Homo sapiens: one gene and its partners. The protein of the gene in region 2 purifies or fractionates together with the protein of the main gene of each other region. This does not show direct contact. Each region holds a gene or a part of one and is shown on either strand. Other genes may lie near its edges. The genes, in order: TRAFD1, ALG10B, KCNH2 and VIPR1.

Region 1 (7,859 bases), about 74 Mb from region 2:
TCATTTTTCTTTTTTTTAATTAAAAACCTTTTTTAAGAGACACAGTCTCACTCTGTCACCCAGGCTAGCATGCAATGGCATGATCATAACTCACTGCAGCCTCGAATTCTTGGGCTCAAATGATCTACCTGCATAGGTGGTACTACAGGTATAGGCCTCTATGCCTGACTAATTTTATTTATTTTTGTTTTTCATAGAGTTGGGGTCTTGTTATGTTGCCCAGGCTAGTCTCGAACTCTTGGCCTCAAGTGATCCTCCCTTCTTGGCTTTCCCAAATGTCGAGATTACAGGCGTGAGCTATGGCATCTGGCCAAAACTGGCCAACGTTGAATGAGTATGTTAATTCACCAATTTAAAAATCCAGCCGGGCGTGATGGCTGATGCCTGTAATCCCAGCACTTTGGGAGGCTGAGGTGGGTGGATCACAGGGTCAGGAGTTCGAGACCAGCCTGGCCAATATGGTGAAACCCCGTCTCTACTAAAAATACAAAAATTAGCTGGGCGTGGATACGCACGTCTGAAATCCCAGCTACTCAGAAGGCTGAGGCAGGAGAATTGCTTGAACCTGGGAGGTGGAGGTTGCAGTGAGCCGAGATCGTGCCATTGCACTCCAGCCTGGGTGACAGGGTGAGACTCCATCTAAAACAAACAAAAAAAAACTGGCTCACCTTGTTTTCAAGTGTTGACATAAACAGTCAAAAGCACCACTCAGTCTTTTATAATGCAAGTGAAATCAGTGCTGTGCCCCTTCAAGGAACCACGTGACAGTTTGTTCAGTTGAGCACAAGTTCCTTGCAGGAACAGTTGCTGGCAGAAGGGCTGTGTCTACAGCCCATGTGGAACCAAGGACAGTTTTCCCATTCAGTAGGGAGCATCCCTCAGCCTTGATCTTCATTTCTTGGCTGGGCGCAGTGGCTCACGCCTGTAATCCCAGCACTTTGGGAGGCTGAGGCGGGCGGATCACGAGGTCAGAAGATTGAGACCATCCTGGCTAATACGGTGAAACCCCGTCTCTACTAAAAATACATAAAATTAGCTGGGCGTGGTGGCGGGCGCCTATAGTCCCAGCTACTTGGGAGGCTGAGGCAGGAGAATGGCGTGAACCCGGGAGGCGGAGCTTGCAGTAAGCCGAGGTTGCGCTACTGCACTTCAGTCAGGGCGACAGAGCGAGACTCCGTCTAAAAAAATAAATAAATAAAAATAAATAAATAAAAATCCAAACAGCTGTTTATATGGTAGTTATAGAAGAGTGGATATACATATGTAAAAATTCACCAAGGTATATACTTAAAGATTTGTGCATTTCATTCTGTGTGCCTCAAACTGTAACAACTTGATTTTATTAATTTATAATTAAATTACCCTTAAAGGTAATTCACAGCGGGCTACAGTGACTCATGCCTGTATCCTAGCACTTTGGGAGGCCAAGGCGAGAGCATTGCTTAAACCAAAGAGTTCAAGACCAGTCTAGGCAATATCGTGAGACCCCTATCTCTACAAAAAACTAAAAAATTAGCTGGGAATGGTGGTCCGTTCCTGTAGTCCCAATTGCTCGAGGGGCTGAGGTACGATATTGTTTGAGCCTGGAGGTTGAGGCTGCAGTGAGCCCTGTTTGTGCCACTGCATTCCAGCCTAGGCGACAAAGTAAGACCCTGTTTCAAAAAAATAAAAATAAAAATAAAAAGGTAGGCCAGGCGCAATGACTCAGCCTGTAATCCCAGCACTTTTGGAGGCAGAGGAGGGCGGGTCACTTGAGGTCAGAAGTTCAAGACCAGCCTGGTCAACATGGTGAAACCCCATCTCTACTAAAAATACAGAAATTAGCCAGGCATGGTGCCGCATGCCTGTAATTCCAGCTACTCGGGAGGCTGAGGCAGGATAATTGCTTGAACCTGTGAGGCAGAGGTTGCAGTGAGCCAAGATCACACCACTGCACTCCAGCCTGGGCAACAGAGTGAGACTGTCTCAAAAAAAAACAAAAACAAAAACAAAAAATGCTGGGCGTGGTGGCTCACGCCTGTAATCCCAGCACTTCGGGAGGCTGAGGCAGGCAGATCACATGAGGTCAAGAGTTCAAGACCAGACTGGCCAAAGTGGTGAAACCCCATCTCTACTAAAAATACAAAAATTAGCCAGGTGTGGTGGTAGGCTCCTGTAATCCCAGCTACTTGGGAGGCTGAGGCAGGAGAATTGCTTGAACCCAGGAGGCAGAGGTTGCACTGAGTCGAAATCATGCCATTGTACTCCAGCCTGGGCAACAGAAGCGAACTCCGTCTCAAAAAAAAAAAAAAAAAAATTAAACTAAAGTTCTATTCTAAATGCTACTCCAACATTTTCAGCACTGTTTGTATATACATGAACTACCTCTTGCAGGAAACACAATAAATTGATAAAAAGGCCTTAGGTAGCAGAGGAACAGGGGAGAAGAGACATGATTTTTACATATATCCTTTTTGGGCTTTAAAATTGTATACCAGCTGTGCACAGTGGCTCACGCCTGTAATCCCAGCACTTTGGAAGGCCAAGGTAGGAGGACTGCTTGAGCCTAGGAGTTTTGAGATCAACCTGGGCAACATAAGGAGACCCTTGTCTCTACAAAATAAAAAATAAAACAAAAAACCTAGCTAGGCATGATGGCATATACCTGTGGTCCCAGCTACTTGGGAGGCTGAGGTGGGAGGATTGCTTGAGCCCAGGAGGTCAAGGCTGCGGTAAGCCATGATCGTACCACTGCACTCCAGCCTGGGTGACACTGAGATCCTGTCTCAAAAAAAAGAAAAGAAAAATTAAAATTAAAAAATAAAATTTGATACCATGTAGATATAATGCCAATTCAGAAAGTTTTTTTTCAAAAGCTTTTTTTTTTTGTTTTCCACTCTGTCACCTAGGCTGGAGTGCAGTGGTGTTATCCCAGCTCACTGCAACCTCCACCTCCCGGGTTCAAGCAATTCTCCTGCCTCAGCCTCCCGAGTAGCTGGGAGTACAGGTGAATGCCACCACACCCTGCTAATTTTTGTATTTTTGGTAGAGTGGGGTTTCACCATGTTGGTCAGGCTGGTCTTGAACTCCTAACTTCAGGTGATCTGCCTGCCTTGGCCTCCCAAAGTGCTGGGATTACAGGCGTGGGCCATTGCCCAGGTCCCAAAGTTCTTTTATTAGATAAATAACACGGATTTGCTAGGAGTAGTGGCTCATACCATTTGAGGATGGGAGTTTGAGACCAACTTGGCTAACGTGGTGAAACCCCTTCGGTGCTAAAAATACAAAAAAATTAGCTGGGTGTGGTGGCACGCACCTGTGGTCCCAAGCAACTCAGGAAGCTGAGGCACAAGGATTGCTTGAACCCGAGAGGTGAAGGTTGTAGTGAGCTGAGATTGCACCATGCACTCCATGCACACCACTCTGTCGCTGGGCGACAGCAAGACTTTCTCAAAAAATAATAATAATAAATGAAAAATAAAGCCTGTGCTAAATACAAATATGAAGGTTAGAGAAACCTGTGTCTTTCTAAAGTGCAGTTTCTTTTCCTCATTATTAGGTACTTAAGACTGAATTGGAGGCCGGGCGTGGTGGCTCAAGCCTGTAATCCCAGCACTTTGGGAGGCTGAGGCGGGCGGATCACAAGGTCAGAAGTTCAAGACCAGCCTGGCCAACATAGTGAAACCCCGTCTCTACTAAAAATACAAAAAATTAAGTGGGTGTGGTGGTGTGTGCCTGAAATCCCAGCTACTCAGGAGGCTGAGGCAGGAGAATCGTGTGAACCTGGGAGGCAGAGGTCGCAATGAGCCAAGATTGCGCCATTGCACTCCAGCCTGGGCGACAGTGCGAGACACTGTCTCAAAAAAAAAAAAAAAAAAAGACTGAATTGGAATAGTTGGTAGGGGACAGGGACATTGGAGCTTTGACAAACATCTGACTTGCTATGATTCTTGTTATTTGCTCCTGGGCTTCTCTGGCTGGTTTTAGATTACTAAGTAATGTGTGCACAAAACAATATGATAGTTAGGGTGGCTGAGTAGTGGGCTCCCTCTAATATTTTATTTTCCTTTATAGAACATTGTGGCAGGAACAAAAGGGGAAGCTGTGACTCTTAAATAATTAAATACATTAAAAAAGGGTAGGAGAATCAAGGGTTGGAAGAGAAGATTGCAGTAGATACTCTTGGCTTTCCTTGCCCTATACTAAAACACACCTCTCCTAGATATGCATATTAACTGCCTCATTCCTCTGTTTTGTAGGAGACTGAGTGCCCTTTGCGGCTTGCTGTCTGCCAGCACTGTGATTTAGAACTTTCCATTCTCAAACTGAAGGAACATGAAGATTATTGTGGTGCCCGGACGGAACTATGTGGCAACTGTGGTCGCAATGTCCTTGTGAAAGATCTGAAGACTCACCCTGAAGTTTGTGGGAGAGAGGGGGAGGAAAAGAGAAATGAGGTTGCCATACCTCCTAATGCATATGATGAATCTTGGGGTCAGGATGGAATCTGGATTGCATCCCAACTCCTCAGACAAATTGAGGCTCTGGACCCACCCATGAGGCTGCCGCGAAGGCCCCTGAGAGCCTTTGAATCAGATGTTTTCCACAATAGAACTACCAACCAAAGGAACATTACAGCCCAGGTTTCAATTCAGAATAATCTGTGTGAGTTGTGCTTGGGATTAGGGAACTAGAATGGTATCAAAATCCCAAGGCAAATGGGAACAGGGCTTTGGGGCCAGATAGATCTTGATTATAGAAACCCGACTGTAGCTGAGTAACACTGGGAAGAATACCTCTCTTTCCTATAAAATGGAAATAACCTCCATTGGATTATAGTTAGGGTTCATAATGGTGAGTATGATGACAGTGTTGTAAATAGCCAACACTTATACAGATTGAGTATCCCTTATCCAAAATACTTGGGGCCAGAAGTGGTTTGGCTTTTGAAGTATTTGCATTATATATACTGGATGAGCATCTCAAATCTGAGAATCTGAAATCCAAAATGTTCCAGTGAGCATTTTCTTTGAGAGCCATATTGATGCCCAAAAAGTTTCAAATTTTGGATTTTTGGATTGGTATGCTCAACCTGTATCTTATTTCCCTTAGGCATTTGCAAAGTGCTTTATACGTATTAACTCATTTAATTCTCTCATTATTTGAAGGTAGGTAAATTTGAAGGTAGAACTGAGATTTGAATTCAGATAATCTGACCTCGTGCTTTAAACCATTCTACTGTAATTCAGAAAATAAGTATAAAATGTTTAGCACAGTGCCTGTCTCATAATTATGGCTCAGTAATATTGCTTAATAATACAGTTAGAATAATAATGGAGCCTTTTCACAGGGCAGACTTTAATGTTCAAAGCTAGGAGACCCAGAGGGTGAAGAGAGCTAGTTGAACATGGTCATTTTTATTCCTTCCCGGATGCCTGTAAACCTTGACTATTTGCTAGGCATGGACTTGAGTTGAGGGTGGTAACATTTCTAATGTATCCTGAATGTTGGTTGGTTTTTTTTTTTCAGTTGAAGAACAAGAGAGGCAGGAAAGGAATAGAGGCCAACAGCCCCCCAAAGAGGGTGGTGAAGAGAGTGCAAACTTGGACTTCATGTTGGCCCTAAGTCTGCAAAATGAAGGCCAAGCCTCCAGTGTGGCAGAGCAGGACTTCTGGAGGGCCGTATGTGAGGCCGACCAGTCTCATGGCGGTCCCAGGTCTCTCAGTGACATAAAGGGTAGGCTTGCTTATTCTGCACTAGCCTCTTTCTCTACAGTTTTTGTAAGTCTTAGGTTATACAATTCTTATACAATTGAAAGATTTTAATGAAATAGAATTTGCCTTACTCTTTTTTGTTTCTTTTTTCTTTTCTTTTTTGGGACAGTCTCGCCCTGTCACCCAGGCTGGAGTGCAATGTAATGATCTCGGCTCACTGCAACCTCTGCCTTCTGGGTTCAAGTGATTCTCGTGCCTCTGCCTCCCAAGTAGCTGGGATTACAGGTGAATGCTTGAACCCAGGAGGCAGAGGTTGCAGTCAGCTGAGATTGTGCCACTGCACTCCAGCCTGGTGACAGAGTGACACCTTGTCTCAAAAAAAAAAGGCTCTAAAGGACATTATTGTACAAGTAGAGAACTTACATTAAAGTTGCTGAGAGTGACATCCGTATTGTTTACATAGGAGAAAGCAGTGCCCTTGTTCTTCAAAGGCACATGATGAAGTACTTAGGAATAAAATGTTATGTGTTCAAACTTATTCTCAAATAGTTCAGGGGAAAAATACATAAAAGTAATGTGAGGAAATATTAAGCTTTGTGAATATAGATGAGGAGTATATGGGTATTTGCTATACTATTCTGAACATTTTTTTTTTTTTTTGGAGATGGAGTTTTGCTCTTGTTGCCCAGGTTGGAGTGCAATGGCACGATCTCGGCTCACTGCAACCTCTGCCTCCTGGGCTCAAGTGATTCTCCTGCCTCAACCTCCTGAGTAGCTGGGATTACAGGCATGTGCCATCACGCCTGGCTAATTTTTTTTTTTTTGAGACAGAGTCTTCCTCTGTTGCCCAGGCTGGAGTGCAGTGGCACGATCTCGGCTCACTGCAACCTCCGCCTCCCGGGTTCACGCCATTCACCTGCCTCAGTCTCCCGAGTAGCTGGGACTACAGGCGCCCACCACTACACCCGGCCAATTTTTTGTATTTTTAGTAAAGACGGGGTTTCACTGTATTAGCCAGGATTGTCTCGATCTCCTGACCTCGTGATCCGCCTGCCTCGGCCTCCCAAAGTGCTGGGATTACAGGCGTGAGCTACTGCGCCCAGCCATGCCCGGCTAATTTTTTGTATTATTAGTAGAGACGGGGTTTCGCCATGTTGGCCAGGCTGGTCTCAAACTCTTGATGTCAGGTGATCCACCTGCCTCAGCCTCCCAAAGTGCTGGGATTATAGGTGTGAGCCACTGCGCCCAGCCATTCTGGGTAATTTCTTATCGGTCTTCTAGTTCACTGATTTTTCTCCGTAGTTATTTCTAATCTGTTGTTTAATGTGTCCCTTAAGATTTTCACTTAGTGATTATATATTTCATTTTGAGTTCTGTTTGATCCTTTTCCTCATTGTACCTCCTAATTTTTAAAATAATCTTTTGTTCCATAGTCATATTACAGTTCCCGCTTTGGTTTTTTTTTTTTTTTTTTTTTGAGGCAGGATCTTGCTCTGTCACCGAGGCTGGAGTGCAGTGGTGTGATCGCGGCTCACTGCAGCCTCCGCCCCCAGGCCTCAAGTGATCCTCCCACTTCAGTCTCCGATGTAGCTGGGACCACAGGCATGCACCACTACCTTTTTTTTTGTATTTTTAGTAGAGATGGTTCCTTACCATGTTGCCCAGGCTAGTCTCGAACTCCTGAACTCAAGCAATCTGCCCCACCTCGGCCTCCCAAAGGATTGGGATTACAGGCATTAGCCACTGCGCCCAGCATAGTTCCCTCTTTAACATGTCTTTAAACATGTTAAATATACTTATTTTTCTTTTGTGTCCAAAAATAGCAAAAACTGTTTCTTTGCTATGTTGTTTCTGCGTCTCCTGTTCATGGAGGCTTGCTACGTGTGTGTGTGAACACCAAGTTTTCTAGCATGTTCCTCTGAGAATTTATAAATGCTTCTGGCAGGCACATAGAGATACTACCATTAGGGGTAACTTTAAGCTTTTGGCCTGGACTTTTTTTTTTTTTTTTCTTGAGACAGAGTCTCCCTCTGTTGCCCAGGCTGGAGTGCCATGGCGCGATCTTGGCTCATTGCAACCTCCGCCTCTGGGGTTCAAGTGATTTCTCCTGCCTCAGCCTCCAGGGTAGCTGGGATTACAGGCTTGTACCACCATGCCCGCCTAATT
Region 2 (7,859 bases):
GGCAATTAAGTTCAAACTAGAAATACATTTCATTAAGCTACGTATTTATTAGAAATAAATTACATTAGGCTATTTACACAAGTTATTTTATGACTGGCTATGCACATTTCAGAAATAACTCTAAGAAGACAAAGAAAAGGCCAGACAGCTAAAATAATTTATCTTGCCAAAATGAGATGCTAAGTTTAAACTGAGAGATGCTATCTTTCCAAATCATTTAAATACATAGACGCAGTTCAAAAGATTCCTGACTATCCATTAATGGAAAACATAAACGTTAACAAAATTCACAGCATACCTGAATCTTACTCATGCTACCTAAAGATAACATATCTCTAGAATTTCACAGAAGATAGAATCAGTTCAAAATGATGTATTACTGAACCTATAATGATTTATGGACTAGATATTTTTATGACACTTTTCAAAATAGACATACTCACAGACTTTAGTAATGGTAACTGTAGGGCTCCAGATGCCCTCGAGCAGGGCAATATTTTTTTCATAATCACCTAATTTTAATCAATTCAGCTAAGTCTAATGTTTAAAAATTCATGAAAAAATATCTATCTACTCAATAACTTTTGAAAACACAAATATAACTAAGAATGTTTCTAAAAGCAAGGATCTAAACACCTAAGAATGGTCTTCTCAGTTGTTTCAAGTGAATGACTTTGAGTTTAGTATCATTTCTTGAACGACTAAAGGCAAAATGATCTGTTGTGCCAAGTTCTTACATAATCATTTTATCTGTTATCTATTTTGGAAAATTCACCAGCAAATGGCCATCTTTGAACTGCCTAGAAAATTTAACGAAGACATTTATCTTAAATTCGAAAGTATTGATAAGCATTCCTGTTTTAAAATAATAAATAGTTGAAAATAGCACCTTTTAATACATGGCATTCTTTTCTTAAAATGCCAAGTACTATATTTTATGTATTTTATAAAAAATGTGGAAGATTAACCTGTTTCTCTCTGAATGTAGATTTTCACCAAAACATCTCTTAAACAGCAGGGACTCAACACTTAAAAATGAACTAGAAGAGCTGGGCACAGTGGCTCACGCCTGTAATCCCAGCACTTTGGGAGGCGAGGCAGGTGGATTACCTGAGGTCAGGAGTTCGAGACCAGCCTGGCTAACACGGTGAAACCCCGGCTCTACTAAAAATAGAAAAAATTAGCCAGGCTTGGTGGTGGGCGCCTATAATCTCAGCTACTCGGGAGGCTGAGGCAGGAGAACTGCTTGAACCCAGGAGGTGGAGGTTTCAGTGAGCCAAGATCGCGCCATTGCATTCCAGCCTGGGGGACAAGAGCGAGACTTCTCCTCAAAGACAAAAACAAACAAAAAAAGATATAGAACAGTGATCCCTCCAAAGAGCAGTCTTCTTTAATTACAGGGTAGAATATTTTCCTCAATTTTGCCAGACTAGATCAGAGTGGAAGCTTCTCCTCTCAGAAGTATTCCTAAATACAAAATCCTTGCATTAATATTATCAGACAAAAAGTTACTTTCCCTAAATTACACATTCTTTTTTCAATTTTGACTTCCCAGATTTAGTTCTCCACTATAGTAAATTAATGACAAAAGTATAATTTCTTTGAGTGTCCTCTCTCATCTAATTTTTAAGAAGTCTGGGTAAAACACGTTTTTCTACAATCACTGTTATAACTAATGCCGATCTATTTTCTGAGTACTAGAGTACAACCAAAAAATGGCCTGCATTTATTACTCAAATTATACTTGTAATTTTCACCTGCACACAATTTTATATTTGTAAATGTAGACTCATCACTTAAAACTCAGAGAAGCAAAATTTGACATTGAGGGGAAAGTAATTTGTTCACTTATAGCTACTTTTAAAGTTTAGAAACATAAAATTATGTTAAAAGATGAGTTCTATTCACAATTCTAAGTTTACATGTCAAAGTTAACATGCCCAAATAATACTTTCCTGTAATGGAATGACAACCCAAAAAATACACTCAAAATAATAAACACAAAATTCAAAAAGTAACACAAAATAATCCTACCCCAGCAGTTGTTCCCTAATCTACAAAGTCAGACCAAAGGATTTCTCAACTTTCTTTCAATTCTGACTTTTTTTAATAGATAATGGAATCAAACACTAGTCACCTTTAGCTTTATATTACCTAAGAAGTCACTTATTTTTTAACCTCTCAGTAAAGATACTGAGAGTTATTTAAAAGGTATCAGCTAAGATATTATCTCCTGATCCAACAATCCCACTTCTGGCTATTTATCCAGAAGATTTGAAATCCGTATGTCAAAGAGAAGTCTGCACTCTATGTTCATTGCAGACAAGTCACAATAACCAAGTGATTCGATCAACCTAAGTGTCCATCCATGGATGAATGGATAAAGAAAATGTGGCATATATATACAAAAAAATACTATTCAGCCTTTAAAAAGGAAGAAATTGTGTCATTTGCAACAATATGGATGATCGTGGAGGACATTATGGTAAGTGAAATAAGCCAAGCACAGAAAGACAAATACCACATGATCTCACTTATTTGTGTAATCTAAAACAATTAAACTCACAGAAGTAGAGAGAAGAATGATGGTTGCTAGAGGCCGGGGATGTGGGAATAGGGAGATGACAATCAAAAGATACAAAGCCTCAATTAGATAGAAGGAATATGTTTGACTTTTTTTAGATCTATTACACAACATGGTGAATACAGCTAATAATTAAGCACTGTATGTACATTTCAATACTGTTGAGAGTACATTTCAAATGTTTTCATCACAAAATATGTCAAATATTTGAGGTGATGGATAGATTAGCTTTATTTAATCATCCCACATTATATTCAAAAATCATAATGCCACTTCGTACCTCATAAGTATATACAACTATAATTTGATATATAATAAAAAATTTTTAAAGGTAGTCTCCTAACAATCATATGAGGATTATCCTAAAATGTCCTTTAGTAACTGTCATGGACTGAAAAGTATCCCATGAAGAGACAATGTCTACTCAGAACATGTGAATACAAACTTACTTGGAACATGGGTCTTTGTAAACATAATTAAGGGTCTCCAGACACAATCACCCTAGATCAGGGTGGGCCCTACATTCAAAGACACTGTCCTTAAAAGGTAATGAAAAGACAGAGGGAAAGGCCGTGTGAACGCAGAGGCAGAGACTGGAGTGAAGATTGCTGTCTGCAATACTTAGACAAGATATGCCCATAAGCCAAAGAACTCCAAGAATTGCAGACAGCCACAAGATATTAGGAAACAGACATAGAATGGATTCTTCCTTAGAGCCTCCAGAAGGAACCAACTCTGCTGACACTTTGATTTTAGACTTCTGGCCTCCAGACTGTGAGGAAAATTGTTGTAAGCACCCAAGTTTGTGGTCATTTGTTATGGCAGCCCTGGGAAGCTAATACAATATGTATTTCATAAAGGAAATCCCCCTTTTAAAGGATTATAATCAACACAATTTGTCTTTGGCCATCATACATTTCATATTAGGAATTAGTGAAAGAGCTTCATCATTTCTGGATTGTAAACAATAACCAACAATTTGATGCCTAGACAGACATATATGAGTCTCTACTTTATCATTTACTATCTATGCATTTCTATTTTGACTTAGAATTAAAATTATATTTACTGAAATGTTAAGGAACTTTTCAGTCAAGAATATCACCTGACCATTTGTAAATATTTGCTAACACATTGTTATTAGGTTGGTACAAAAGTAATTGTGGTTTTGCCATTACTTTCAATGGCAAAAACCACAATTACTTTTGCACTAACCTAATAGTTCTCTCTGAAGAGAATAAATTAGTTCTAGTAATATGAAGCATACCCAGTTTTAATAAACTTATACATACAAAACATTCCCAAGCTTTGTGAGGGGCCAACATTACGAGAGCGATATGAGATATCTGAAAACAATTTTATTTTCCCATTATTCAGGCTTTTGAAGCAGGTCTTAAGCTTTCCCAGTTCTTTGCCACTTAATTTCTTACATATGTTTAAAATATATATTAAAAAAACTAATGTAATTTGAGGACCACCACTGCACCTAAAAGAAATTCCATGTTTTCCACCTATTCAGTTGTTCTTTGTAGAAATGGTCTAATTATTAAGTCCATTTTTACAGTTCAAAATATCACTGATATTACCACATAAACCTTTGAATGTCCTGACTATTTGGCCACTGAAAAGTCTTGTTCAGAAAGATGTAAAAAGTTATGAAATTAACAATTGCATAGCAACTCAGTTCACAAACAAGTCTGGATGTGGGAGGCAGAGTTATGTTAAGCCTATAAATGACATAAGGTAAAATGAAGTAACGAAATTCCAGCAGTTTCTGAGGAACTATAACAATGAACAAGCATATGAAAAACATTAAATTCCAAAAAATTGGCTTTGATTTCAATGAGTCAGCTATACTCCAACCAGCAAATATATAGGCTGGAACTAACAAATATTTCAGAATTGCATATCTTTGAAAAACTCTTTTCCACACATAGAAAGTATAATGTCTATTGTCTGCTAGCAAGTATTTATGAGCATAAGTGAATTTCCAAACTAAAAACACAGAGACTAAGGTAACCACCAAAAACAGAATTCCATGTTTCCAAACTAAGGAAAGAAAAGTCTTAATTTTGCTAGGAGACAGGAGATGAGGAAAAGAAAAAAAGAGAGTAAATGAAAAAAAGTAGAATAGTTGAGGAAAATGAAGACAGGCTTCATGACTACTCCGATCGCCAATAACAATTCCACCATTAACTACTACAAAAGCACAAAACAGAAATCCCAGAAGGATGTAGGGCCAAGTCAAACAGAAAAGCATACTCAAGTTTTTAAAGGACATGGAATAAGCCAAAAGAAACTGAAGAATTTTTCTGAATTCTGCAAATGGTCCTTTAATAGGTGGAAGTCTGTCTTCCTTCTTTTGTAGCTCAGTTTTCCAAGCCTCAGTTAACTTTTGTGCAATGACATTCCCTGCACAGAAGACAGCCCAGATGATATTTGTTTGCCGAAACATGAAGCCACAAAATCCAAGGAAGGCTGAAGTTTTATGATTTCCATAAAGACACATCAAATATGCAAAAAGAGTAAAAAACATAGATCCTGCTTCTGTATAATAAAGGAAGTTAAAAAAATAAAGTGTTGGAAATACTGCTAGTGTTAATGTTGACAAGACTCTCTGGATACTTGAGGCAGCCTTGGAGGAAGAAAAAACACAGATACAATTATTTTAATGATAAATGCTATTTCTGCTTACCTAATGAAGAGATTTATTTAAAACTACTCAACTACTCAAACCTTATTTAAATAAAATTAATCAATATTAATCTTATCTCTGGCTTTGCAAAAACACAATAAACATTTATAAGAACACTTCCTGGTACTTTTTATTTATACCTATCAGTTTGGAGACCGTGTGTATGCCAAAGCTTCTATAGCTTAACACAATTTGAATCAGGCTATGATTAGTTAAGGAGTTACTGAGTGCAAGATACCGACTAAGTTCTGTGGGGACTATGGAGATAAATAGGACACAATGCTGGCTCCATTTCCCTGAGCTTATGTTTTAGTGCCTTCAATAAGGATTCACTTAGCCATAATCACCACTTTCCTTTAAGGAAATCCTTCATAACACTACACAAGGGAGAATGTAAACATGCATATGGTATTTATTTTACCATATCCAGACTTACTTTTTCAAGATGATATTTTCATGATGAAATAACGGTATTTTTCTGAAAAGTGAGCCAGTCTAAACTTATATATCTTATTTTGGCCTTTCTGACATGCTATTTCAGAATTTGAAAGTGTTCTTATGTTCTTGAATTGTATACTCCACTTAATCTAAATCACTAAATCAGACCATGTCATTTCCTTGATTAAAATTAAGGTCTCTCCATTACATGCTAAAGTTCAAAGTCCTCTCTGTGACATATGAGGGCATTCATGACCTACTTCTCTAGCCTTACATCCCTCTACTTTCTAATCCTGTAATTCCAAGACCAATTCCCTGCACCTCATTGTTCAATGCCTTTCTTCCTTTGCTTATGCTGTTTGTCTCCCCAGGATTAATTCCTCACCCTACACAGCCCTATCCGTTCATCAGGACTCAGCTCTGGTACCATCTTCTCTGTGAGGACTTACTGAATGCCACATACTCCTCTCCCTCCCAGAAAAGCAGTAAGTGTTTCCCTGCTCCTTCTCTGTGTCCTCATAGCATCTTATGTCTACTACTCTATCATAATTGACACTACTGAAATAATCTCTTAAGGTTAAAAATAATTATTAGAGTTAATATTTACTGAGCCCTTACTATATATCTGGCACTATTTGAAGCATCTTCCATTTATTAAGTTTCCTTGTTCCTTTATAACAGTTCTATAAGGCAGATTCTATTGTTATTCTTATTTAACAGATGAAGACATGGAGCCACTAAGGGTTAACCTGCCCACAGTAACAAAACTGGTTAAGTGGCAGGGAGAGAATTCTAACCCAGGCAATCGACCTCCGGGGCCTGCACTATTACCACATCAAAAGTCCTCAGGTAAAGTCTGTTTTCCCTACTGAATATATACGTTTTACAAGAAAAAGACTGCCTCATTTATCTCTGTAGTCCCAGTCCCCAGCACATGGAATAAGCTCAGTAAGTATTTATTGAACTGGTTTGACTCACTTAACAAATATTTACTTTAGAGTTTACAAATAAGTTATTCAAGTATTTAAATACAAATTTATTCTAAAATGGAGATGGAGAATTTAAATTTACCTTTACATAATATACAAAAAATACAAAGTTACAAAGTGTTAAAGACATTTTTCACCAAATCTCATAAAACTAATTCATTGTAATTGTGGACCTGACTACACATAAACTTGTAATTAAGTATTTTGAAACATACCTTGTTTCTGGGTTGTACCTTGTGGAAAAGCAAATATAGTAAATAGAAGTTGCCAACACTGAAGAGAAGATTAACAAATCTGAGCATCCCAATGGAGCAGACAACATGTTCAGACCATGCAAAGATCCAAATGGCAGGTTTGACCACTCCAACTGACACCAGGTACAAGCCAGGTAATGTAGTAATCATGGGATCCCACTTTAAAATGAAAGAAAATGAAGTAAAAGCAAGAGGTAATACGAACAAGACAGACACAAATATGTCAAGCCCAAGTCTCATCTCCAGCAACAATCAGAAATTTTGAGAAGTTAGTCTATGACAAGATTAAGTAAGTCCTTGGCAGAACAGGATTAGTTTTTCTTATTTTTTGCCCCCGGACCAGCTTAGTGATGGTTCAGGTAGCAGCAACCAATAAACAACAACTTAAAATCTATTTCTATTTTCCAAGAAATGTTCTTTAAAAGCCTTTATTTTGATAAATAAACTGCAAATGCTCCAGTTTTTAAAAGCATGGAAACATTGTTTGGGACTCTAAGTTTAGGAAAACATTTGGACCACAGGCTCCATGATGACAGCTGACATAAACTGAGACAGAAATTGTGCCAAACCCTCTGTATTGTAACATTACAATATGCCCTATAGTAAAGATTATTGTCATTTTGCAGATGAGTAACCTGAATTTCTGAAACTCAGAACATCTCCAAGATCACAAAACTAGTAAATCACAGCACCAAGATTTAAGATCAGATCTTTCTCTAAAACAGACTTTATATTTCTAGCCAGTACCCTATATTGTGTCACCAGAAAAGCAGGGGATGTTTATTTTGATATTTATATGTACATACTTGCACAGTCAAATATATATTCAAAAATGATGTGACTTGACTGGTTGCCAGTTTATCCAGTCAACAGATAGTTCACTAAAAATACCCAGGGAA
Region 3 (3,834 bases), on a different chromosome or scaffold from region 2:
CCTCACCTGTTGAGCTGGCGCTGGAGGGCATCCAGCCTGCTCTCCACGTCGCCCCGGGGCCGCCGACCCGGGCTGGAGAGGGGGATGTTGAGGAGGCTGGGGGTGGGGGCGGGGCATCGAGGGAGCTCCTGGTACTGGCGGCCCCGACTGTCCCCCCAGAAGCTGAAAATGTTGGACACTCCTGAGAAGGCGCCTGCAGCCAGAGAGCAGAGCTGGGTGAGCGGGGTAGACGCACCACCGCTGCCACGCCCGGTCCTCCCTCGCCCGCCCGTCGCCCGGGATACCTGACAGGGGGTTGCAAGTGTCGCTGCTCTTCTCGCAGTCCTCCATCAGGGGCTCCCCACCCGGCGGCTCTCCGGGGGGCCTGGGGCTGGAGAAGGGCACCAGGCGGAGGGGGCTGGAGCTGCGGCCTGGGCCCTCATCCTCACTGCTCTCAGGGCTGGAGGGGCCACTGGACGGGCTCTCCCCCCACGGCCCCCCCGGCCGGCCCCGGCTACTCGGCCCTGCCCCCGCCCGGCCCGGCCCCAAGGCCGACACCTCCCCTGGCTGCTCCGTGTCTGTGGGAAACAGAGAATGGGCCTCAGAGAGGGGAGGAGAACAGAGAGGAGGGGGCGAGGGTGGAGGAGGGGACAGGAGCGAGCCCGAGAGAGGACTGGGCAGGAAGCCCTGGTTTGTCCCCAGTCGCTTCTTCTGCTATCTTGCACCCACTGTCAAGCCGACCAAGAACTCCCAGGACCCCCTGACTGCCCAAGCACTGGCAATGGTGCTTCAGGGGTTGGCGGATCTCTGGGACTGCGGGGCCTCAGCCCCATCGTTGGCTCCCTGGCCCTCCTTTGTTCTATGTTCTTTCCTCCTCAGTGCTCACAGAGACCCCAGCCCTGTGAAGTCCAAAAAGCCTAGGCTTGCCCTGGAGGGTGGAAGAGGGCTTCCTGGAGGAGGTGACAGCTGCAGGGGCCCTGAAAGATGGGCAGCATCTGGACAGCTGGGGTGTGGAGTGGGCACACTGGAGGAAGGGATGGGAAGGTCTGAGGCCTGGGTAAAGCAGACACGGCCCACCCCGCCTTCCAGCTCCCAGCCTCACCTTGTCCCCGCCCTCCCCCTTCCTCCCCTCCCCCGCCTCACCCTTGTCCGTGCGCCTGCGGAAGGACAACTTGCGCTTGCGTTGCCGACTGAAGCCACCCTCTAACTCCGTACTGCCGGGGGAGCCCGGGATCATGTTGGTCTGGAACCAAAATCAGTATCAGGGCCCTTTCAGTGCTCTCCTGCCCCACCGGGGTCAGGCCCCAAGCTCCCTCCTTAACACAGAAAAAGTAGGGCTGGGCGCCCCAGCTCTGGGAAAACCCTTCCCTGCCCCCAATGTGATTTTGCCCCAGGCAAAGACTGAGTTTGGGACTTTTGTAGGCTGCTCTATGATACCATTTGACAGACAGGGAAACTGAGACAGAGAAGCATCACATTCAATGTCACACAGCAAAGGGGCAGCCACACAGCTGGAAGCAGGAGGATGGGGTCCAGCTCAGGGCAGCCAACTCACATCTCGCAGGTTGAAGGTGATCTCCAGGCTGGACCAGAAGTGGTCGGAGAACTCAGGGTACATGTCCAGCACCTCCAGCAGGTCGTCCCGATGGATCTTGTGTAGGTCACAGTAGGTGAGGGCCCGCACATCCCCGTTCGACTTGCCAGGCCTTGCATACAGGTTCAGAGGCTCCCCAAAGATGTCATTCTTCCCTGGAGGCCATGGAGAGGACAGGGAGCTCAGCCCCGGGGGGCGGCATCCAGGCAGCAGGCACCTTCTCCCGGCATCCCCACCCCGGGCAGAGCATGTCCCCTCAGCTGGGTCGCCTGCCAGCCGGCCCCCAACCCACACAACCGGGGAAGCAATCTGCCAGCCCACCCTCCCTCAGCTCCCAGCAGGCACGACAGTGCCAGAGGGGCCAGGAGCCCAGGGTCTCCCAGCAAATGAGACCCAGCCAGCAGGACTACCCCAAACCCCAGGTCCCAAACACCCTCTTAGCCAATCACTGCACCCTTATAAGCAATGTTCTTCAAACCAAAGATCAGAACACAGTAGTGAATCAAAACCAGCATTTTTTTTTTTTTTTTTTTTTTTTTACTGAAAGAACATACAGTAGTATAGCTTAGCACAGCACAGAACAGAAATGCTAGAATGAACCACATGCAGTAAGGCCCAGTGTTATGTAGTGAAACTTTGATTTTAGTTTTGTGGGGGTGTGTATTTGTGTTTGTACAGAGCTGAGAAACAAAGTCTAAAATGTCCTACCATCAACTATGGTCGAAAGAGCTTGCTATATCTGCCCTGAGGCACACAGGGCCGAGGGAAGGACAGGCAAAGGGGGAGGAAGTCCTCAGTGTCCAGACACACCAACCCACCCACTGTGCACAGGCAGGGTAGAAAGGAAGTGGGGGGAGGGGGCAGGACTCCCTTTGCTTTGGATGTGTCAAGGGGCCAGGCATGAGGCTGCAGGGAACCACATGGCCCTTAGTGAAACCAAATGCCGAGCTTCCAGGCTAGCATTTCTTCCTCTACTGCCCAGGCTAGAGGATCTAGATTTGATCCTACTTTAAGGAAGCAAAAAGTGTCTGTTTGTGGCGGATCCTGAAGGGAAGGAGAATGTGGGAACCCCAGAGTTCAGCAGCCTCACCCCACGTGGGGCTCCTCTCCATGGCCCCGCTTGGAGGGCCTGAGTTTAGGTGAATTAAAGGAGCCCAGTGACCCTGCAGGCAGTCCCAGGTCCACAGCCCCAGTGACTGCATATTCAGAAGGCTCGCACCTCTTGAGGCTGCAGAGGGCATTTCCAGTCCAGTGCCCGCCCCCCACCCCATACCCAGGATGGCCACGACGACGTCGCCCCGCAGGATCTCGATGGAGCCCCGGGAGATGAAGTACAGGGCGGTGAGCAGGTCCCCAGCATGCACCAGTGTGTCCCCTGGCGGTGCATGTGTGGTCTTGAACTTCATGGCCAGGGCCCGAAGGCAGCCCTTGGTGGCCCCTCGGAAGGGTTTGCAGTGCTGCAGCAGTGAGCGGTTCAGGTGCAGGCAGATGTCAGCCTGCAGGCACTCAGGGAAGCCCTTCAGCACCTGGGGGCAGGGTGGGGGCAGCTCAGCACACCCTCCCTTGGGACCCCCCAACCCACACTCTACTCCACCATCCCACCCCTCCATGTCAGAGAAATCTCAACCTCCAGGCCTGGGAGATCTCGGAAGCATCAGGGGGCCCAGTGTCTTGGGAAGGACCTGGGACCCCACTCCAGCTTCACCATGCCTGGCCGAGCACCCTTGGGCTCTAGACCTCCATGTTCTTATTTGTAAGGCATAGAGACCATTCCCGCCCTGGGCTGTCACAAGGATTTAACCCCATCGCCTATGTGACATATACCTCCCACCCCAAAAGGGGAGCTCTCCAGGGAAGGGGTTCCAAGGGCTTCCATTTCCTCATGGGCAAAAAGGGGCAACGTGCCTCCAGGGTCCTTACTACTGACTGTGACCGCCTGAGACTTGTTTGCTGTGCCAAGAGGTTCCCCTCTGCCACCCCACTCTTCCCAGCCTGCCACCCACTGGCCACGCTCTGGTGGCCTCACCGCGTTCATGTCGATGCCGTTGGTGTAGGACCAGGCGTGCTGGAAGTACTCCTCGAGGCGCTGGCGCAGGGGATTGGGGATCTGGTGGAAGCGGATGAACTCCCGCACCCGCAGCATCTGTGTGTGGTAGCGGGCTGTGCCCGAGTACAGCCGCTGGATGATGGCCGACACGTTGCCGAAGATGCTAGCATACATGAGGGCTGGGGGCGTGGGCACGTGGGGCCGTCAGCCTCTG
Region 4 (7,859 bases), on a different chromosome or scaffold from region 2:
CCTTGCCTGGCCAAACTCCCTCCTTCAGGTATTTTATCCAGTCTAGGTAGATGACTTTTTTCTAACTCTCCACAATTTTTATCTTCTATAAGGTTTATTTAGCTTTCCCTGTATAACCAGGTCCCTTCCCGTGGATATAATTCTTCCCAGGCCTGTTGTGTGAGTTGGTGATGCCATCATTCCTGCCTCACACTTGCAAACTTCCCTCTTTGGAATTTCAGGTCGGTTGCCCACAACTTCTTCATCTACTTGCTCAGGAGAACACTGTCTTTTTTCTGTTTTCAGTCCCTAATCGCAGTCTCTTATTTCTCTCCACCATTTTCAGAGACCAGGCCCACAGAGTATGGCTGTGCAAGTTGTTCACTCTACAAGGGCACCTGGCCGGTAGGCATATTCTGCTTGTCACTAGGTGGGCTCTAGTGAGAGGTCATCTCTGCCCGAGGAAGGACTGCCTTTTTCTTGTCAGTCCAAAGGCACCGTATGGGCCCCATTGATGGCGGCAGCCTCAGGGTTAGCTAGATGGTGGGCTGGAGTCCAGGTTCTCAAGGGCAGGAGTTGCCTTGACACATTCCAGCAGGGACAGAAGGAAGAGCCATGGGGAGGAATGCAGTTAGCAGAGTCTCAGGGAGAAAGGCAATTAGCAGGTGCTTCCAGGGATCAGAGAGAAGGCTAGTTTCCAGGCTTGGTGATGGCGTGCACTGTGAAACCTGCCAGAGGAACTCATCTCTTATCTGCCCAGGCACTGGGTGTCCCTGGAGGAGGTGACCAGGCTAGGTGGGCACTGGCCTGGAATATGGCATGGCTGTGACCCTCCCAGACTCCTCAGGAGGGCTTCAAGTTCTATCTTTCACTACTGAGGTCACAACAGCAGGCACTGGGGGGCAAACTGGCTTACCCCAAAGAGACCCTGGGGTCTACCACCTATCCCCACTTTACAAACGGGGAAACTGGGGTCCAGGGAGGAAAAGGCCATCTGGAGTGAGAGATGCCTGAGTTCTGTTCGCTCTCTGAATAATTATATAAGTTCTGCTCCTCATGAGTCCTCCCCACTCTAGGCCTGCCCCTCCCTCCATGCTCCCCACCCAGTCCCACTCTCTTCCCTAAGGCTCATTAAACCTAAGCCTAGGGTGGGGCCTGCTTGATTCCTCCCTCGCCTCACTCACTCCCATTCCCTCCATAAACAACTCTCCCACTTCTCTCCCGCACTGAGCTCACTACCTGAATTCAAGCCATCATTTCCTGCCTGCCTTGTGATTGGGTTTTCCTGTTTACACTCCTAGAATTCTTCCTTCTCACAGAAACCAGTTAGACGTTAAAAATCTAAATTGGACTTTGTCAGTCCCCTGCTTAAAACCCCCCACTTCTAACTGGACTTAGGAAAAAACTCAAGTCTTCGCTTCTGTCCTCAAGGCCCTGCATGGTCTGGCCTCGGCGCACCTGTCCCTCCCCTCCCTTCATCCCTGGTGCTTTCCCTGCTCCAGCCACACTGGCCTTCACGGAACTTCCTTGGATGCTTGTTCCACGGGCTGTTGATTCTCTCTCTCAGTTGTCCCCAATCTGGGATCTTTGCCTGGTGGTTCTTTCTCACCTCCAGGTCTTCAGATTGCAGATGAAGTGTCACCTCCTCAGAGAGGGGCTGTTTGTGAACCTCTGCCTTAAGTTAGTCCCCACTCTCCTTATTCTCTCGTCCAGCACTTTTTATTATTGATGATACATCTGTTTATTTCCTTACTAAATGTCTCTCCAATGAGAATGCTAGCTCTGGGAGAGCAGCCCCGGGGGCTGTTTTATCCTCTCTCCACTGTGTTTGTCCAGCTCAGTGCCTGGCACACTGGTAAGTGCTTCATTCACTGCACAAAAGAATGACTGAATCTATATTGTGAATCTCTTTAATGACTCACTAGCTAGAAAGCCACCTCCTAAAGGGGCTCCCCCTTTTCTTTTCTGCCTCATTCTGTGGACATTCATTTAAGTGGAACATGACAAGGTGTGTAAGCAAAGTCATGTGGTGGCTTCATGGAGCCCAAGAGGTCATAGGCTCCAGGCATCGAAAGACTGAATCAAGACCAGCCCAAGACAACAGGACTATGGGAGTCATAATTTAATCAAGTACCTGTCAGTCAATCAGTTATCAATTGTTGAGCAAATATTTAGTGAGCCTTTCCCACATGCTTATCTTTATGTGAAGAGCTAATCAAATCCTGTGAGTTCTTTAAAGACCCAGCACCATTGCCTCCTCTGCCAGGGAGTCCCTCGGATTGCTCCAGCCTCTTTGACCACTTTCCTTTGCCTTTCCACTTCCTTGAGAGGTGAGTCCCCACTCCAGCCGGCCCCACTCACATCACCTCTTCAACCCAGGGGTCTTACCTTGAATGGAGGAGAAGAGCTTGAAGATGAGGGGACAGGCCAAGACAACTACCTGGCCCCGAGGGGTGGCTGGCCAGCAGGTGAGGTTGTCCCACATCTTGCTGCAGCCTATGGGGGTAAGGCAGAAGACACATGGGTGAGCACAGTGCAGGTGCCTCCAGCCCTGGGGCCTGAGGCCATAGGCACCCACTCTCTTCCTCCCTCTGCCAGGCTCCCACCTCAAGGAGCCTCCAGTCTGAGAGGGGAGGCACAGCCCTGCGGAGGTTGCACGGGGCTGTCCTGACAGGGAGGCAGGAAGGAGGCCTGACTACAGTTCCTTGGTCCTTAGTGAGGGATGGAGCGCCCCCTGGGGATGTTTCCAATGCCAGTGGTGGTTTTGACTGTTGCAGCAATAGGGGGGCCTCACTGGCATTTGATGGGCAGTCACCAGGGATGCCAGACAGACAACTCCTGCACAATGATGAATTGTCTCACATTCTGCATGGCTTCCAGATGAGCCACTGGGCATATGTATAGGTGAAAACCTTTCATAATGACCAGAGCCTAGACTCTTACACCATTTTATGTATAAACACACGCCATTTACTTACTTATTTTTTGAGATGGAGTCTCACTCTGTCACCCAGGCTAGAGTGCAGTGGTGCAACCTTGGCAACCTCTGCCTCCTGGGTTCAAGCAATTCTCCTGCCTCAGCCTCCCGAGTAGCTGGGACTATAGGCCCATGCCGCCACGCCCGGCTAATTTTTGTATTTTTAGTAGAGACAGGGTTTCACCATGTTGGCCAGGCTGATCTCGAACTCCTGACCTCAAGTGATCCTCCCACCTTGGCCTCCCAAAGTGCTGGGATTACAGGTATGAGCCACCGCGCCCGGCCAACACAAGCTGTTTATTGCACAAGTTTAACATACATGGAGTTTTCCAGGAATGCAGCCACTGAGAAAAGGGAGGGAAGATTGTATTTTGTTTTGTTCTGAACTTCACTAAGAGTTGTTCAATGTTTTGGAAAATCATGATACCCATAGCAGTGCTGCCTGTGATACTTGAGTCACCGATACAACTACCTGTGTCCATCAGTCTGCATTTGTAGGCCTCACATTCCCAGGATTTATATTTGTAGGTACAACCTTCAGACTACATCTAGTGTGGTTATGCTTGAATATGTACATGGTACTTTATTGTAAATTACTTTCCTTTTAATATTTATTTTACAGTATAGCTAGAACATTATTTTTTATAAAGTGGATGGGTACGTGTCCTGAATTTCATATTATGATAGTGAAGGAGGCATTAGAAAATGTTTTGAGACTCTGTCTCAAAAAAAAAAGAACTAGATGCATCCCAATATACTCATCACCCCATCATAGTCTTGCTCTGTCGCCCAGGCTGGAGTACAATGGCATGATCTCGGCTCACTGCAACCTCCACCTCCCAGGTTAAAGTGATTCTCCTGCCTCAGCCTTCTGAGTAGCTGGGATTACAGGAGCCCACCACCACACCCGGCTAATTTTTGTATTTTTAGTAGAGACGGGGTTTCGCCATGTTGGCCAGGCTGGTCTCGAACTCCTGACCCCAGGTGATTCACCTGCCTCTCAGCCTCCCAAAGTGCTGGGATTACAGGCATGAGCCACCGTGCCCAGCCCGCACCTAGTTCTTGAACAACACAGATTCCCCCAACGTGGTCGGATTGTGAATTGTGATGGAGGGGAATAGTTAGGGAACAAGTGCAGCGAAAACCCTGCATTGTGGCTGCATTCTCCGCCACAGCCTTGCAGAGCCTGGCCAGTGAAAGATGCACAGTGTGGTCTCTAGGGGTCTGCTTGAATAGGCACATGCAAATGCCATCATTTAGTCTGTTCAGAAGCTTCATGCCCGTGAGGGACTAGGACTGCTCTGGACCCATCCCATGCAGGAGGCTTAATTGTCTCTTTGCAATCCTGCCAGTCCCATAGATTTGCTCAGAAAACCCAACCCCTGAGCCAAAGTCAACGCCAGCTGGGCCAAGCCCAGCCCAGCCCAGCTCAGGTCCGAAGGTTCACAAGTTCCCAAGAAGGGGGTCTGGGAAGAGGAGGTGGAGGGATGTGTTTACTTGGGGAAGAGCCTCGGGACTGTGTGCATTGGAGTGGGCTGGCAGCAGCAAGGGGCACTTTCTGGGGCTGCAGCAGTCAGGCCACATCTATAGCTGAAGGCTGAGGAGGACACCTGGATCCCTAGGGCTTGGCCAGAGATTGCAGCCTTCCTTGGTCATGGACCCTGACCACTTTTCCCCCAACCTGTCTTGAGGGCTCTTGTGGCCTCATGTTGGCTGTCAGTCCCTCTTCCATTCTGGGCCAGCTTCTCTGAAAGCTGAGTAGGGGCACTTCAGGTCAGTCAAACCCTGCTGGGGGTTCAAGACCCTGTTAAGAATATCAGCAAACATTCATATAACATTTGCATGTGCCAGGCACTGTTCTAACCTCTTTGGATGAATAACTTATTTAATGCTTCCATTTCACAGATGAGGAAATGGAGGCACAGACTGATTAGAAAACCAGCTCAAGGTCATGTTGCTGGTAAGCGGTACAGTCTATTCCCACTCCTCTTGGTTGGAAGGCCTGTCATTTCTCTGGGAATTTTGCTGCTGCTGGACTTTGTTTACCCCTCTCTGACAGCACTGGGCACGCCCTGTTTTGTAGGCCGGCTATTGTGTCTGAGTCCCTGCCAGACTTTGGGCTCTCTAAACCTCCGGCTGCCAGCACAGGCCAGGGAGTGAATCCGGGGCTGGGTCTCTGGCCCTGAGCTCTGCTTCACTGCAGTGGGACAGAAGAGAGGAAACCAGGCCCTGCCCTTGGGAGGCCACACTTGGCCTCAAGGAATCTCAGCATAACCAAGGCTGGGCTGTGAACTGGTGCTGGGGTGTAGGGCAGCCAGCAGGGCAGGGGAGCAGGATGAGAGGCCAATATGAGGGACATGGTCAGGGAAGCAGGGGACGGGGTGACAGCCATGAATATACTTGGTACCTGGAATGGCCTGTTGTCCTGGGCTAGGCAACGGGAGTATTTCCTGTGTGCCTGCCCTAATGAGGCCCCATAGGTCCCATCACACATGTCACCAGGCCTACAGAAATACAGGGCCCAGGCTGGCTGTGTGTGCCCACAGGTGGGGCTGTGCCCTCAGCAGGAAAGCCCAACCCAGAGCTTGGGGTAAGGGATGGTGAGGCAAGATGAGGTGGGGCCTCTGCTGTGTCATTTTGTAGACTTGTGTGCACACAGAGATACACACACTGACATGTACATGCCAGTACACAGAACACCAGGCACACATGCAAACATGCACACATGTACACTTACCTGAACACAGACCACAGACACAAGCAAATGGGCACAGAGAGACACACAACTCACAGAGACATACATTCAGAGAGACAGACATGTCTGGGTGTATCACTGACATTCACACTGATAGACATACAAGCCAACACACAGAGACACAGCACACTGGGCAGACACATCTAGGCATGTCGAGATGGCATGTGCCCAAGCTTAAATAGACACACACTTCTGACTCACAAAGATACTCAGAGTCAGACACAGAGCTATAGACCCCAGAGGCACAGACGCAGCTCCAGACAGACATGGGCCAGGAGCGCATACCTAGATGTGCATGAACACGCACAGAGCCCTACAGAAGGTCACGGGCAGACCCATGGCCACAACCTATGCTGGCCCTTCTCTGCATCCCAGCCTGGCTGCTGGTGACAGGGTGTTGGCACCCGACGGGAACGCTGTGCCAGCAGTGACCTCATTGGAATCACGAGGGTGGCCTGTCCCCAGGCGTGGGAGGTGCGCAGTGGAGTCTAGAGTCTGGGCCTCTTGGGGCTGCCTATGATCCCACCGCTGGGGCCTGCCAAAGCCTGTCTGCACCTGGTCCTGGCTCCCTGCACTGGTGGAGTGGGGTGGGGCCTGTAGGTAGTGGGCAGGCCCAGCCACCCCGTGACCCATGCCTCAGTCTCTGGGCCCTAGAGTCAAGGGGTTGTCCTGCTTTGAGACAAGGGTAGGCAAAGCCCATCTGTGAGGCTACACATACTCACTTACAGAACAGGAGGCAGACAGCCTGGGCACCAGGGCCAAGAAGAGGGACCCAGAAGGGGTTACATAACTGTCAGCTTTAGAGAGGTGGAAGGGGAACTAGGGAGCCAGGAAGACGTAAAGATGCTCCCTGCTCCTGAGCAAGGCTGTTACATAACTGTAAGCTCAGCCGCGGGGAGATGGCCTGGGATGGAGGCCCAGAACGGGCCCAGCCATCTCATGCCTCCAGCCCAGACATGCCAGGCTGGTGTCCCTGGCAGTAAGACTTGAACCTGCCAACCATGCCCCACTCCCCATGGGAAGTCTGCCTCAGTGCCTCCCACCTTCCCAGACTCTCTGTTTCTCCAAACCTGCTCACCCCTCCAAGTCTGGTTCAAGTGGTACCAAAGAATTCCATCCATTCTTACCTGGGGCTGCTGAGTCAAAAGGAGGGTGCTGTCATCTGTCCTGATAGCCCTGCTGTCCAGTCTTGGTAGCTGGGCACTACCCTTCACACTGCCAGGTGGGGCTCTCCCAGCCCCCTGAGGAGGAGTGGCTGGGGCCCTCATGTGCTCAGCCCCTGGGGCTGACCTTGACTTGTCTCATCAGCCGAATAATGAGCTGATGGTTCATCTGGCCACTAAGGGTGGGTTGGGATGGAGAGGCCAGTGTGTTTGCCTGTATGTGTATGCTTAGGGGCTGGGCGTGTGTGTATGTGTGTGTGTGTGTGTGTGTGTGTGTGTGTGGTGTCACTATCGGTCCTCTGGATGTAGCAGAGGCAGAGCCTGGGGTTGAGAGGGAGGAGTGGGCCTCAGTTTCCAGGCTGAATATTGGCTGTGGTGAGTATTCCACATCTTTCCAGACAAAACTTGTGCCCCTTCTTGCTCGGGACCACTAAGATGGCTTTGAGCTTCCATGTGGTCCCTGTGGGGGTCACATATTGTGACTGAATGTGCCTCTTCTTCCTCTGGAGATGCTAACAGTACAATGTTCTAATCCTGGAGTGTGGTGTTATGGGGCTAATTCTCCCATGCCAGCTCCAGGGGGTCCTGGAACCTGCCTGCCCTCATTGGTCACAGATCCCCCACCACATAGCACCCTGGGCCTTGTGTCCTGGGTGGGCTGGCCGCCATGGAGATCTTCACTTTTCCTGGAGAAGAGGGATAGGGACCCCCAGAGGCAGAGTTGGCTCCATGTACTTTTCAGAACCCCAATTTAGTATGTCCTCCTTAGCTGCGGCTGGGAGCTCCCCAGACCTGGGGTGGGAATGTGGAAGCCTGTTAGCCCCTTTCTTCTTCCATCTGGCTCCCCAGCCGCTCCTCACCATCATCCAATAAATGTGGAACGAACGTGACTTGGATCTCAGCTTGAGACATGAGGAATCTTGGGCTCCCTGGGGGCATGCAGCCCCTCTCTGCCCATGGGGGCCTCACCTATTGTCTCATTCTC

What was found.
Region 1: the proteins of ALG10B (region 2) and TRAFD1 purify together in Homo sapiens (affinity purification with mass spectrometry; one large-scale study listed by BioGRID and IntAct). This does not show direct contact.
Region 3: the proteins of ALG10B (region 2) and KCNH2 purify together in Homo sapiens (affinity purification with western blotting, with the first as the bait; one study listed by BioGRID). This does not show direct contact.
Region 4: the proteins of ALG10B (region 2) and VIPR1 purify together in Homo sapiens (co-immunoprecipitation; one large-scale study listed by IntAct). This does not show direct contact.

Annotation. Positions count from the first base shown.
Region 1 is NC_000012.12:112,136,581-112,144,439, forward strand, and holds part of TRAFD1 (TRAF-type zinc finger domain-containing protein 1), read left to right. Parts: intron 1-4,238; coding exon 4,239-4,644; intron 4,645-5,508; coding exon 5,509-5,715; intron 5,716-7,859. UniProt on the Homo sapiens protein: Negative feedback regulator that controls excessive innate immune responses. Regulates both Toll-like receptor 4 (TLR4) and DDX58/RIG1-like helicases (RLH) pathways.
Region 2 is NC_000012.12:38,317,521-38,325,379, reverse strand, and holds part of ALG10B (dol-P-Glc:Glc(2)Man(9)GlcNAc(2)-PP-Dol alpha-1,2-glucosyltransferase), read right to left. Parts: intron 7,120-7,859; coding exon 6,922-7,119; intron 5,220-6,921; coding exon 4,167-5,219; 3' UTR 1,468-4,166; coding exon of another isoform or gene 1,456-1,467; 3' UTR 1-1,455. UniProt on the Homo sapiens protein: Dol-P-Glc:Glc(2)Man(9)GlcNAc(2)-PP-Dol alpha-1,2-glucosyltransferase that operates in the biosynthetic pathway of dolichol-linked oligosaccharides, the glycan precursors employed in protein asparagine (N)-glycosylation.
Region 3 is NC_000007.14:150,947,322-150,951,155, forward strand, and holds part of KCNH2 (voltage-gated inwardly rectifying potassium channel KCNH2), read right to left. Parts: intron 3,800-3,834; coding exon 3,600-3,799; intron 3,100-3,599; coding exon 2,847-3,099; coding exon of another isoform or gene 2,578-2,846; exon of another isoform or gene 2,088-2,577; intron 1,729-2,087; coding exon 1,535-1,728; intron 1,223-1,534; coding exon 1,123-1,222; intron 558-1,122; coding exon 285-557; intron 194-284; coding exon 7-193; intron 1-6.
Region 4 is NC_000003.12:42,513,839-42,521,697, reverse strand, and holds part of VIPR1 (vasoactive intestinal polypeptide receptor 1 isoform 1 precursor), read right to left. Parts: coding exon 7,844-7,859; intron 2,476-7,843; coding exon 2,368-2,475; intron 1-2,367. UniProt on the Homo sapiens protein: G protein-coupled receptor activated by the neuropeptides vasoactive intestinal peptide (VIP) and pituitary adenylate cyclase-activating polypeptide (ADCYAP1/PACAP).